Linked DNA regions of Homo sapiens. The protein of the gene in region 1 purifies or fractionates together with the protein of each later gene. This does not show direct contact. Each region holds a gene or a part of one and is shown on either strand. Other genes may lie near its edges. The genes, in order: PHLPP1, COA1, BUD23 and FBXO22.

Evidence for each region.
Region 2: the proteins of PHLPP1 (region 1) and COA1 purify together in Homo sapiens (affinity purification with mass spectrometry, with the first as the bait; one large-scale study listed by BioGRID). This does not show direct contact.
Region 3: the proteins of PHLPP1 (region 1) and BUD23 fractionate together in Homo sapiens (co-fractionation; one large-scale study listed by BioGRID). This does not show direct contact.
Region 4: the proteins of PHLPP1 (region 1) and FBXO22 purify together in Homo sapiens (affinity purification with western blotting; one study listed by BioGRID). This does not show direct contact.

What each region holds. Positions count from the first base shown.
Region 1 is NC_000018.10:62,977,521-62,980,981, reverse strand, and holds the end of PHLPP1 (PH domain leucine-rich repeat-containing protein phosphatase 1), read right to left. Parts: intron 2,721-3,461; coding exon 1,551-2,720; 3' UTR 549-1,550; downstream 1-548. UniProt on the Homo sapiens protein: Protein phosphatase involved in regulation of Akt and PKC signaling.
Region 2 is NC_000007.14:43,642,468-43,646,035, reverse strand, and holds part of COA1 (cytochrome c oxidase assembly factor 1 homolog), read left to right. Parts: intron 1-636; coding exon 637-785; exon of another isoform or gene 786-790; intron 791-3,568. UniProt on the Homo sapiens protein: Component of the MITRAC (mitochondrial translation regulation assembly intermediate of cytochrome c oxidase complex) complex, that regulates cytochrome c oxidase assembly.
Region 3 is NC_000007.14:73,690,059-73,693,626, reverse strand, and holds part of BUD23 (18S rRNA (guanine-N(7))-methyltransferase), read right to left. Parts: intron 2,712-3,568; coding exon 2,615-2,711; intron 1,032-2,614; coding exon 981-1,031; intron 299-980; coding exon 213-298; intron 4-212; coding exon 1-3.
Region 4 is NC_000015.10:75,906,830-75,910,397, reverse strand, and holds part of FBXO22 (F-box only protein 22), read right to left. Parts: intron 1-3,568. UniProt on the Homo sapiens protein: Substrate-recognition component of the SCF (SKP1-CUL1-F-box protein)-type E3 ubiquitin ligase complex that is implicated in the control of various cellular processes such as cell cycle control, transcriptional regulation, DNA damage repair, and apoptosis.

The DNA.
Region 1 (3,461 bases):
AAATAGAAAAGCTGTAAGATCAGGCCTGGCACAGTGGCTCACACCTGTAATCCTAGCACTTTGGGAGGCTGAGGTGGGCAGATCACTTGAGGTTAGGAGTATGAGACCAGCCTGGCCAACATGGTGAAACCCCATCTTTACTAAAAATACAAAAATTGGCTGGGCATGGTGGCGGGTGCCTGTAATGCCAGCTATTCAGAGGCTGAGGCAGGAGAATCACTTGAACCCGGGAGGCGGAGGTTGCAGTGGGCAGAGAACACACCACTGCACTCCAGCCTGGGAGACAGAGCGAGACTCCATTTCAAAAAAAAAAAAAAAAGAAAAGAAAAGAAAAGAAAAGCTGTAAGATCAGCTAATTATACTGCTTACCATTTGGTTAATTTCACATTTCATTCAATGTAGGTTAACTTACTGGATGTTTTTCTCTTAAAAAAAAAATCAGAAATATCTGATAACCCCAATATTCCATCCATTCTTTCTAAACGCAAGCTAGTGTGACTGTCTCCAAGAAACATCTGGCTGCTGAGACAAAAGCAGATACTTGTAAATACTTGTAAATTTCATATTTATTGTAACAAAAATTATGACATGTCCATTTGTGCATTCTGCTTGAGTATAACTCTGGGTATGTAAATGGCCTAATGGGGCACTATACAACCATGCTGATTGTGGCAGCAGTAAGGAACACAGTTAAAAGTGTCTGTCAAAGTGGGAAGGCTGGGACAGGGGAGGAAAATGGGTTCAGGGCCCTTGGGTGCAGGTTCTTGTCCAGTGGCCTAAGATCCATTTCCTCCGGACAGAAACACTGCAGCTGCTCAGCCTCCTCATTCAGTGAAGTGAGGGTGAGTTGTGAGGCAGGCAGGCTCCTCAGAGGGGAGGGGGAGGGGAAACGTCAGTTACTTGGGCTGTGTCCTTACGCCAAGACTACAAAACATCGTAAGCCTCACTATACAACACTGAGCTATTTACAATGGAAATTCTCAATCAGCTGTTCTCTCAGAGAAAATTAGTGAATCCCAGTGACTTAAGTCACCTGACAGAGTAAAGCAACTCCTAGGAGTTAGTCTCCATATTCTACAAATGTCTATTATTTTCAAGACAAAAACAAAACAAAACAAAACAAAACAAAACAAAAGCCTTTTCCCCCCAAAGAAATACAGAATTACAATATTATTAAATCATTTAGCAACGGCAGCCTGCCCTGCCTTCCAAACAAACAACAAAAAGCCATTTTAAAAAATATTACATTATCATTAACTGTTTCTCTGTAATATATTAAACCTTTTGTTCTTTGTCTTTACATATCTGATATGTTAGGGGGAGAAGTTAACAAATGTAAATCATATTGGTAAAGCATCACTAGAAGAAAGTGGTGATTACTTAAAAAAATAACCCAAAGAAAGAGAACCTACAGATTAGCTGCGATGACAGGTTGGGAACAGTGTCTGGGGGAAGGATGTGGAGTAAAACCCCTGGTTTAATGTGAGCCTGGGAGACTCTTGCAACTCAGTCTTTTGTGGTTAGTTTATTTGTTAAACAGCTCGGCTGGGTCATAGTGGCGTGTCGTAATAATCTGGCAGCTGGTCCAGCTGGTAGTGCCGCGGCAGCTGCGGCTGGAGCTGAGGGGGTGGTGGCGGCTGCTGCTGCTGCTGTTGCTCCTGGTGATGCTTCATGATTTCTTTGACCTCCTCTTCCAGCTCCGGGGGTATGATAAACTGATCATCAGGATCCGGCTGAGCCGGGGCAGCAAAATAGCCTCCAGGCTTTCGAAGAGGTGCGTCTGTAGCCACCTCTATCACATTGTGGCTCCTTTCCTGGGGCGCAACAGAGCCATTGGCCCTCCGGCGCCCAATGGTCCCAACGGCAGAGAAGTCTGCCTTCCTGGGCAGACCTGGCTCATCCTCGTTGGCGCTGATGACAATGCCCTCATCACTGGCCTCTGCTGGCACCTGAAGCAGGTGCTGCTGTTTCTCCTTCTCCTTGGCCCGGCTGCAGTGGATGTCCACCTCCACCTCCACCCGGCTGCCGTTGGTGAAGACGCCCTCGATGGGCTCCTCATCGTCACTGTCAAGGCCGTTGTCGGAGAAGGCGCTAGAGAACGTGGCGCTGGATAGCTGGCGCTGGAAGGAGTTGGACAGACAGATGGGGTGGAGCATGCAGCGCTGCTCACTGGGGTAGGCAGGGCTGTTCTCGCTTAGGGCTCCGGGCGGGGGCTCATCGGAGGCTGTTGACCCCACCTCGCTGCTCATCTCAGAAGTGGAGAGCTCACTGCTAATCTCGGAAGCCATGCCGCTGCTGGAGGACGGCACGCCCAGCCCATCTGAGGGCCGATCCTTGATCACCATGTTCACTGAGGGAGGAAAGATGCCAGGACTGGGTGGTGGCACAGCCCCACCGGCGCTGAGCTCGCAGCAGCAGAAGCTGTCCTCAGTGACACTGAGCTGCACCACCACAGCGCTGATGCTGTCGTGGCAGCCGTAGCTCTGGGCCAGGGTACACAGCTTCTTGGCAGCAGCCAGGGCATCGGGCACGTTGCGCACGGCTTCCACGGCCTCCTCGACGGACAGGCTGTCCCACAACCCCTTACTGCCTAGGATGAAGAACTCATCCTGGGGAGTCAGGAGCACGGACTGCACGTGGGGGCGAGGCACCACACTGGGATGGAGGAAGGTGTAGCCCAGGATGCGCGTGGACTCAGTCACTCCGTTCACCTTGCCATCCTGGAAGAACAAGGGTTTGCAGACAGACAGTTAATACAGAGCACCTGCGGCAACTGTGCAGGTTCCCTGCGGGTCCCTCGACTGTCTCGACTGTAGGACCACAGAGAAGTGCTGTGTGGCCCACAGAGGAAAGAAGGGCTCACTCTGTAGTGAGTAGTTAATGTGCACCTGTCATCAGAAACCCCAGGTAGTAGGCCTGGGCAGGTAAGGAGCAGTAGGGACAAAAGGAAAAGATTTCGGTTATGTGTGTTACTGGGACCCCATTCACACTAGGTCACAAGTCCTGCTGTTTATCTAAAGCAAGCCATCATCTAGCCTTACACAGCAAGCATAGCTGGCTAGCTCCTCCTGTAAACATGGGTTTACATCTTCCCTCCCTTGGTGAACATGGTGATCAAGGATCGGCCCTCAGACGGGCTGGGTGTAGGAAGACTCTGAGGTAGCAAGAGACTTTCTGATAGAAGCCAGTCCTGAGCAAAGACACATGACGCAGGCATATATCAAGACAATGCTCCTAAATCTTCCATTGCTCTCCATGATCACAAGAGGCAGTAGTGTCTAAAGGTCCAGAGAGGACTTGAAAGTACTTAAGCGGTGGAGAAAACCTTGGTTTGACTAGGTGGGTAAGAATGCTCATGTCAGGAGAACAGATGCTAAAGAAGAAATGCCAATTCTTACAACTTCCTTGAACTTGATTTCCTGTTGACCAATGGAGAAGGCAAGATCTGCTGGCTTTAGTTC
Region 2 (3,568 bases), on another chromosome or scaffold:
GAGGTGCTTCCCGGAGTTCCCAGGTAGCCTGTGGGCTCAGAAGGATTCCTGAGACTGAGAGCAGTTTGAGTTGAAATGTTGGCTTAAATCTTGATGAATGAACATTTTCATATCCTGTTTCTAGGCCTGAGGGTTTTGTTGTTAATGTTGTGGTCTTTCTATTTTATGTCTCAACTTAGTGGAACAGGCAGTGTTGAGAAGTCAGGTATCATGGATTCTGGCCTCGGCTTTGCCATGGACCAGCTGTGTCACTTTGAACAAGTCATGGAATCATAGTAGGACTTTAGAGCAAACTTAGAGACTTGAGAGGAAACTTAGAGAAGAGCTGACCAAACCTCTTAGGTGTCAAAATAAGGCAATGAGTGAGGGTAGAAATGAGGTGAAGCAGAAAGGGTCTGCATGAGGTCAAGGCCCAAGGTCATCTGCACATCCCTGCAAAACACTGCCTGCCTGTGCTTTGGTTTTTGAGTCTGTAAAATGGACAATTTAGAGTAGATGGCCTTAATTATTCGTCCATCCACAGATTTCACGTTTCTGTTTCTACCCTGTACGTCAGTTGGATTATTTAATTTTCTGTGTAGTAGATTCTACCTGACCAAGTTCAATAAAGAAAATAAGTGTGTCTTTCGTCCTTAGAGTTTCATTCCAGGGCTTTATATTACAAGTTGGCAGTGGAGCAGCTGCAGAGCCATCCCGAGGCACAGGAAGCTCTGGGCCCTCCTCTCAACATCCATTATCTCAAGCTCATCGACAGGGAAAACTTCGTGGACATTGTTGATGCCAAGGTAATGTGCTTTCCCTGCGAACCGCAGGCTGGTGCCTGCTGAAGGAGAGGAGAGTCTACTGTCTCCTGGAAAGTCCTGGAGTTAAGGATTTGGGATGGGAAAATCCACTAAGTAAAGCTAGGTTTGGCACCTTTAAAAAAAGTTTTTCTATTATGGATTTTAATGTTTATATAAAATATATTTTATATTATAGATATTTCTGTATACTTTTCTTCCATTCTGGGGAATTGATGTGGCAGGGAATGCAGTGGGTATGCTGATGTCGCCATCTTGAATTGAAGGTAGTAGAGAAATGACCAGTGGTGGTTTGCTACCATGTTGGCTTTGATAGCTCTCAGCACTTTGGGAGGCTGAGGTAAGAGGATTGCTTGAGCCCTGGGGTTTGAAACCAGCCTGGGCAACACAGCAAGACCCTGTCTCTCTCTCTCTCTCTCTCTCTCTCTCTCTCTCTGTCTCTCTGCCTGCCTGCCTGCCTGCCTGCCTGCCTGCCTATCTATCTATCTATCTATCTATCTATCTATCTATCTATCTATCTATCTAATCTATCTATCTATAATTTAGCCAGGCGTGATAGTGCACACCTATAATCCCAGCTACCCAGGAGGCTGAAGCAGGAGGATCGCTTGAACCCAGGAGTTGGAGGCTGCAATGAGTTATGATCATGTCACTGCACTCCATCCTGGGTGACAGAGTGAAATTGTCTGTAAAATTAAAAAAAAAAGAGAAATGCATCTATATCCAGTCAGTGCTCATTCAAATGTACCCAACTCTTTAAACTTTGATTTTTAAAGTGTATTTATTTACATTGCTTCCACAGAATACCAACCCATTTTTTTAGCTATAACTTATCTTTTTGTACTTGATCACACTCACTTGCATGTAAAACACATTTGTTCTGTTTAACAAACATATTTTGAGTATATGCTCTGGTTTGAGAAATGATTCTAAGCTATGTGGGGAATAGAGGTGCAGAAGGCTTTTGGGGGTTTACAGTTGAAAATTCCTGAGTAAGACAGGGTGAGGGAAACCCTGTCACTATTGTGCAGGCCTAGGGGAAGTGGCTCGAGGCCTGGGAGATGGCTGTGAGGACTTTGAAAGGTGGAGAGGAACACCCGGCTGAGGAGCAGCATGCCTGGGAAAGTTCATCACTGTGTCGCCTGTCAGTGTGATACGGCAGTGGAGGCACAGGTGGGCGAGGTGGGTGTGGGCAGGTAGGAGGGGCTGCGGCCACCAGGGGCCACAGTGTCATCTTGGAAGGTGTGTGCTTGACTCTGGCAGCAGAAGCCCGTAAAGTATTTGGAGGATGAGTGAGGTGATCCGACCTACATTATTTTTTGTTATTTTTAGTATGTTCTTAATGGACCCAGCTCTAATGAGACTTTTTTCTAACTACAAAAGCAATTCATGCTCTGGTATTCTGATTAAAATATTCGGTTTTAAAAGAAGGTGGATTTGTGTAGATTGGTAATGCCCAGGGACTGGCTACGGGGAGCCATCTTTAGGAGAGAGATGTGGCCACACTGGTGTGCAGTGGTGAGAGCATGAACCAGAGGTGTGGCCTGGAGAAGCAAAAGACGGATGTGAAGCCATCGTGGCATCCAAGTGACAGAACTTGGTAACAGTCATGTATCAGGAGCGGGTGGGTCAGAGGTGATGGTCCAGTGTCCAGCATGGACGTGAGTGGAAGGACGGCAGCGACACTGCGTGAGAGAGGACATCCTGGAGGAGGAGCACAGGGAAGGGCTGGGCATGTGTGGAGTGCTCACTCTGTGCCAGGCCACCGGATTGCTCCCATGGTGTGGCGGAGCCTGTCTGTTGCTTCCTTGCCTTTGGTCACTTGGCTAGACCCCAGCAATCCTGAGAACTTGGAAAAGCCACTGGGTAGGTCTGGCTGTTGCGTTTCTCTCAGCACAGAGCCCAGCTGTAGCACTGAGGAATTGTGTGCCAAAGGCGCCTTTGCTGGGGCTGGTTGATGCAGCATCCATGATCTGGTGCTCCAGGAACCCCAGTGAGAGTAGGGTAAGGCCATGGTGGTTTTGGTGGGAGCTTTGTCCTGTCCAGCTTTCACTTTGGCCCCAGTGGTGCTGAGAGGGCGCCTTCCTGGGCTTCCCCACATCCCTGGGGCCTTGGCCATGCTGTGACTATGTTGGTTGTGGTGCTAGGTTCTGGCTTCTACTGCGGCCAAATGCTGTGACTCTGCAGTGACAGGAGTTCAGAGTCTGCTGCATCATGGCCACCTGGAGCCTCAGTGCACGCCTTCCAATTTGTGGACTATTTTTGACATTCTGTCAGGGTCCTTTCTTTATAATCAGCGGTTTGTGAGGATGCCTGTATACAGCATATGCCCTCTTATCCCAAATTCCTTTATTTGCAATTTTTACAGTTTTTCCAGAGGTGAGATGTTTCAGTTGTTCATGAAGTAATTGTCATACATTGGGATTTTTTCCCAAGTATGTGTGTGAGATAGTCACCAGTGACCAACACTTTGCTTTACCAGAACTCCTGCTTTAATCTTTGGCAAGGTCTGGCTGGTGAAGGAACCAACCTGTAAAGTGTCACATCTACCCATGGAAGCACAGCTGCCCACAGTTCAGACATTGGCCCCTCAGAGTTTGCTCTTCTTCAGAATCCTTCTTGCTTCTGCCCATTTCTTTCTCCTTCCTTTTTAAATTTTTTTTTAAAGCATCCAGAGATGCTCAGTGTATACTCTGTTGCTTAATTCTATAATTTCCAGAGAAAAGCTGTAGCTTGACTCAAACAGTGGGACCCTGAAAATTTGTTCT
Region 3 (3,568 bases), on another chromosome or scaffold:
AATCTGAAAGGAGAAAGTGCAAAGTGAGGGTTGGGTGGAGAAAGCCCCACAGGGAGACAAGCCCTCAGCTCCCCCACCCGCACCCCCTCCGCCTGCCTGGACCCTGGTGACCCACACCCCAGCACTCCTCTGCACCACTGAGTGGCCTGAAAGGGCTATGCCACTACCCTCCCTCCTGCAGCCCAGGCAGCACACCGGCCCCCAGCGCTCACTTCTTTGCTTTGGCACTGTTAGGGTAGTCTACCACCATGCCACCGGAGAAGCCTGCCTTTGTGGCCTGGGTTGTGATCAGCTCCAACTGAGGAAAGAAAGGCAGCGGGTCAGGCAGCGGAGGTTGAGAGGAGCAGACAGCTTCACCTCCCTCCCCTCCTTCAGAAGCCAGTCTGCTCCAGGACAAATCCTGCCTGGGAGAACTTAAGGTCGCTGTAAGCCACGTAGAGAAAAGTACAGGCTAGAATCTGGCATGGCCCACACCTCCCTCAGGAGAATTACAGAACAAAGCAACTCCCCTCATTCTCACTTTCCAGTGCAGGGACCCAGCTCCCCACTCAAGTTTAGGGAGATGGCCACCAATTGGAATCCAGAGTCATTCATGTTATTAGTCAGGAACAGCTCTTCACTTATCTTTCAACATCTACATCCTACTCCGCCATTCCTTAATTTATACATCACACAACGGAGAACTGTCGGTGCCCTCTCACCCTTCCTAAATGGCATTTACTTATTTGGTTATGGAAATCAGTCGCATCACCTTATCTGTAATACCATGTCATCTGCCAAGAGAAGGCATCCCACCCCACCTCCGCAGATGCCACCCCCTTAGGATATCAGGTCATCAAATGTGCCATCAGGGGCCACACTAGGGTGCATGTTTCCTCCTTTTCCCGCCAATCTGCATAAGATTCTTTGTCGCTTCCCCAGGACAGCTTACCTGTTGAGTCCCCCAACTCCCCGGCACACCCAGTAGCCGAGGGACTCACCTGCTCTGAGTTCTCAGGGTACAGCTGCAGGACAGCTCGGGATCCCCGGACCTGAAAGAAACAGGAACATCACTGTCTTACAAATGACTGCATGAGCTTAGGGCCTGGACACCCCTCTCTTCCTTCATTCACCAAGTATTTCCTGAATTTCCATTATGTGTGAGGCATTGTTAGGGCTGGGGATAGTATGAACAAAAGAGATCACCCTGAACTTTGGAGCTCACATTTTAGTAAAGGAGGCAACTAATTCACAGTAGCAAATTTTTTCTTTGTTACAAAAAGAGGAATTAGACAAAGTGACAGAGTTTCCTTTCAGTTCAGTTTACTTTTGGTTCCAAAAAGGCCTGTTTCAAATGGATACTTGAGCAGAGATTTGAATGGAGTGAGGAGCTGGCTATTTAAACATATAAGGGAGGAGCCTTCCAGCAGGGAGAAGAGGAAACACAAAGGACCTCAGAACTAAAATATTAACCCAGTGTGCCAGGAGGAGAACTCATGTGACACACAAGACCAGCGGCCAGATAGGCAGGCGCAGTCCACCCCAGGAAAGGCCAGCGGCCACATCAGCAGGGGCAGTTCACCCCAGGAAAGACCAGCGGCCACATCAGCAGGGGCAGTTCACCCCAAGAAAGACCAGTGGCCAGATCGGCAGGTGCAGTCCACCCCAGGAAAACTAGGGGTGGGCTAGACCAGGCTAAGGAGGCAAAAACCACTCAGATCCTTCAAAACGGACTCATTTTTAAGCTGGGCACAGTGGCTTACGCCTATAATCCCATCACTTTGGGAGCCTGATGCCAGACAATTGCTTGAAGCCAGGAGTTTAACACCAGCCTGGGCAACATAGGTAGACCCCATCTCTTAAAAAAAAAAAAGTAAAAAATTAGCCTGGCATGGTGGTGTGTGCCTGTAGTCCAAACTACTTGAGAAGCTGAAGCAGGAGGATCACTTGAGCCCAGGAGTTCGAGGGCGCAGTGAGCTACGATCACACCATTGCACTCCATCCCAGGCAACAAAGCAAAAGTCTGTCTCAAAAAACAAAATTTAAAAAGAACTCATTTTTAGGACTTAAAATCTCAGACTATCAGCTAATCCTAGTGAACAACTGAAATTAACATCATTAATTTGAAGACAAAGCTAATAAAGGCTCTCTTTGCAGTAAATAACTATCCTGTTCCTCATCCGAAGAAAAGGATCAGCACTAGGAGGAGGGATAAGTGAGGAGTCAGAAGGATGTGGGCACTTTGGAAGGTACCCCTCTGGATGGTCCGGACACGACATCTCTGTCCTCACTCTGCTCAGTCCATGCCCCCAAACCAACTTCTGATTAAAACTCAGCGCAATAGACATAGGAATACCAATCAACAGAAGTAGGCCCTATTACAAGTTAATAAATTGGTCTCCGATTTTGGTATCAGTGACTTCTGGGTTTGATTAGAGTATATCAGTCCACTGAGCTTGAACTTCCATTTAGGCTGAGGACCTGGACAGAAGTAACCACAGTAAGGTCCTGCCACCCCATGCGGTCCCATATGAGTAGCTTACCCATCATGGGACACCTCAATTTCCTCACTCTACCTGCAGTGCTAGGGAGGGACAGGCAGCTAACCCAGATGGGGAGAAGATCTTATACTCACGAGAACAGAAAAAAGAGAAGCAAAAAAGCAGTACAGGCGCTTGGCAGGGTTTTCAGACTTCTTGTTAGCATTACAGAGCCACTGCACAGCAGAAATGCTAAAAAGGAAGGGACCTAGTCAGGCAACGGAGCAATCCACGTTGCTCCCCCAACCACTTCAAGCCTCTTGACATCATCCGTCCTGGCTCTCCAAGAGAAACCCCTCCTCCCACAGCTTCCCTTCTTAGAAAGTGCAGGTTGAGGCCACGTACAGTGGTTCAACGCCCTGTAATCCCAGCACTTTCTGAGGCCAAGACAGAATTGCCTGAGGCCAGGACTTCAAACCAGCCTGGACAACATAGCAAGACCCCATCTTTACTTAAAGTATTTTTAAATTTAAAAATTTAAAGACAAAAAAAGTGCAGGTCCACTGCAGGTCATGACTCTACAACACTGGAAAAATAGGACATACAGAAGGACAGCATTTATGTCCCATAGTCCCAAGAAACCTTTCCTCCACCTTGTTTCCATCTGCATCTTGAGTTGAAAAGTCCTCCGTGTCAAGGCTGTCTGCCCACACACCCCTCCTTGTTCCCTTCCTCCAATCCAAGGAAACAGGCTTTAGACTACTCACATACACACAGCCATCCCATCACCCTTCCTCCTAAATCACTCCCTTCCACTCTACCTGTTAAGTGTCTTTACAACCCCCAGATTTAAAACCTCAAGCAGCCAGGTGCATTGGCTCATACCCGTAATCCCAGCATTTTGGGAGGCTGAGATGGGTGGATCACTTGAGGTCAGGAGTTCGAGACCAGCCTGACCAACACGGTGAAACCCCGTCTCTACTAAAAATACAAAAATTAGCTGGGCTTGGTGGCATGTGCCTTGAATACCAGCTGCTCAGGTGGCTGAGGCAGAAGAATCACTTGAACCTGGGAGGCAGAGGTTGCAGTAAGCCTTGTGCCACTGTACT
Region 4 (3,568 bases), on another chromosome or scaffold:
CACTTTCACACTGTTTGTAGGAGTGCAAATTAGTTCAACCATTGTGGAAGACAGTGTGGTGATTCCTCAAGGATCTAGAAAGAGAAATACCATTTGGCCCAGCAATCCCATTACTGGGTATATACCCAAAGGATTATAAATCATTCTACTATAAAGACACATGCATATGCATGTTTACTGCAGCACTATTCACAATAGCAAAGACTTGAAACCAACTCAAATGCCCATCAGTGATAGACTGGATGAAGAAAATGTGGCACAGATACACCATGGAACACTATGCAGCCATAGAAAAAGGATGCACTCATGTCCTTTGCAGGGACATGGATGAAGCTGGAAACCATCATTTTCAGCAAACTAACACAGGAACAGAAAACCAAATGCTGCATGTTCTCATTCATAAGTGGGAGTTGAACAATGAAAACACATGGACACAGGGAAGGGAACATCACACACCAGGGCCTGTCAGGGAGTGGGAGATTAGGGAAGGGATAGCATTAGGAGAAATACCTAATGTAGATGACGGGTTGATGGGTGCAGCAAACCACCATGGCACGTGTATACCTATGTAACAAACCTGCATGTTCTGCACATGTATCGCAGAAATTTAAAAAAAAAAAAAAGTATCACCCCATCCAAACTGCTGGTACCCTACCTTCTTTCAGGTCAATGTTGGCATTCTGAGTCAATCTACTTCTCATTTACTTTTCACTCATGCTCTTTCATTTTCAGTTCATTTACTAAACACCTATAATTTCTTCATTCCAGCCCTCAAAAAGTTCATTTTCATAATGATAACTGAAGCTCTTAGAACAAAAACATCAAGTACCAGCAAAAGATGCACTTGCTTTATTTGAACAGGCATCACAGTATCAGAAAAATCTCAGCACTGGGGAAGGTATACAGGCTGTATCACTCCCTTTTCACTGCTTATCAAATCAAATACTCCAAGCCTCCATTTCCAGGCTTGCCAGCAAGGCTTCCTTCAGGGCCCCTTAGCTTACTATTAATATTATCCAGACACACCGACTTCCCCATATGTTCTATTGCTCTGTTCTTGTGGAACTTAAGACTGTTTCCCTCTAGAGACACCTTAAGTGCCACCTCCTCTCCAAAACCTTTTCCTAAACTCCCTCAGTACTCTGGACCTCAGATGCAACATCCCTTACCCCTAGTTAATCTTATTTGTCCCCTATCTCCCCTATGAGCTGGGCTTATTCAGACTCACCTGTTTTCAACTAAACTTTCCAATTGAAGACAAGCGGCAAAGCAGCTGAATTAAATGAAAAGGATGATATATTTTTCCAAGCTAGCTATTTTCAAATATTTTTTACTACCAGAATAAAATGAAGTACTTAGGATATAGCAAAGCCTCATTGTTAGTTAAATGGAAAAAAAAAGTTGGTCCATTATAATTTGAGGGAATGCCAAGATGTTTCAGAATACATTCTACATAGATAAACTAATAAAAGAGACAGATAGCATGATGGCCTGTGGGGCCCAGGGCTGCCCAAGACCTACGGATATAGTTTCCTTGGTCCACACAGCATTTTCAGAAAATGTAAACTGAATGCCAATGTTCAAAATTCCACCGAATTTTTACATAAAATGTGGATTTCCAGATTCTTTTTAAAAACTGGACATTTTGGCAACACTTAGACTACGTGCCTCTTAACTAAGGCTAAACGGAGGCAAGCCTTTCCAGACTGCCATGGTGCTACGACTATTGAGCTACCTGACCCTCTTCAGCTACCTGCCTGACCTTCGAGTCATCTGAATCTGTGATGCCTGGTATAGTGAGTAAAGGAGACAGAAAAAGAGATTTACGGGCAAGGCACAGTGGCTCACGCCTGTAATATCAGCACTTTGGGAGGCCACGGTGGGTGGATTGCCTGAGGCCAGGGTGAGACCAGCCTGTCCAACATGGTGAAACCCCATCTCTACTAAAAATACAAAAAGTAACCGGGTATGGCTGCATGCGCCTGTAGTCCCAACTACTCAGGAGGCTGAGGCAGGACAATCACTTGAACTAGGAAGGTGGAGGTTGCACTGAGCCAAGATCGGGCCACTGCAATCCAGCCTGGGCGACAGGCGAGACTCTGTCTCAAAAAAAAAAAAAACCAAACAAAACAAAAAACAGATTTAGGTCTTAGTGGCAACTCTGCCACAAACCAGCAGAATAACCCTCAGCAAGCTTTTAGGCCTCAGGTTTCTTACTCCTGAACAAGTATTAAAAGTCTGGTCCTGAGAGTTTATGAGGCATCCACTGAAAAGCAACTGCTGAATTTTCCTTCCTAATTCACACTAGAAGTAGTGACATAACAAGCCTCAATATGAAATGTTCTCAAAGCACAGTTAAGACAGCTGACACCACATTCCACTGTTCAAAGAAGTTACAAATGGCAAGCTGTTTTATAAAGCTTTTGGTGGACTTTAAAAAAATTTTTTTTTTTTGAGACACAGTCTCACTCTTTATCACCCAGGCTGGAGTGAAGTGGTGCAATCTCAGCTCAAGCAAACTCCATCTCCCTGGTTCAAGCGATTCTGGTACCTCAGCTACCCAAGTAGCTGCGATTATAGGTTTGCACTAACATGCCCAGCCAACTTTTGTACTTTAATATTTTTATTTATATATTTGATATTTTTAAATATTTATATTTTTTTAGTGGAGACGGGGTTTCACCATGTTGGCCAGGCTGTTCTCTAACTCCTGACCTCAAGTGATTTGCCTGCCTCGGCTTTCCAAAGTGCTGGGATTATAGGCATGAGCCACCATGCCTGGCGGACTTTAAAATATTTCTAATAGAAAAGTTAAATCAACTTTCTTTATGGCTATAAAAGTACCCATGTCCACTAGATAACTTGGAAAACACAAATAAACAGCACGTATGATTTGGATAGAGTTTTCATGTTTTTGTCTCACCAGCAGTTTACTACAATGGAGGAACTCCTCTAAGGGCATTACTATAACTATGTGAACTTTAATAATGATACTAATAAAAGAATATTTAATAGACATCTATTGAGAACTTATGCTCCTGGTATTGTAAGTAATGTTTATATGCATTACCTTTTCATTATTTAATCCTCACAACAACTCTATAAGGGCATAGGAAAATTATTATTTTTCTTTTTATTTTATGGAGATAGCACCTGAGGCTCAGAGAGGTTGAGTAGCTTTTTCAAAGTCACACCGCTGGTATATGCCAAAGCTATGGTTCACAACTAAGTCTGTCTGGCTATTAACAGCCACTACAATGTATAAACTCTTAAAGCTATAGAAAAATCATGCCTGCTGTGGTAAAAATTTGAAAACTTTTTAAAAACCATAGAAAACTTTTTAAAAACAGTAAATGGAAAAAAAAGCTAACATTTTGGCTTTCTTTTCTACTCTCCCTTTTTTGTCTTTAATAATTCAGATGATACTAAATATATAATTTCATAATCTGTTTTCACTTTTAAAATCAACATTTTCTCTTGTCATTAATGCATTTGCAGTCTATAATTTAATAGCTTTATTTATTAGATTAACATTAGGTTTTTAGTATCCCTTATTATAAACGATGCT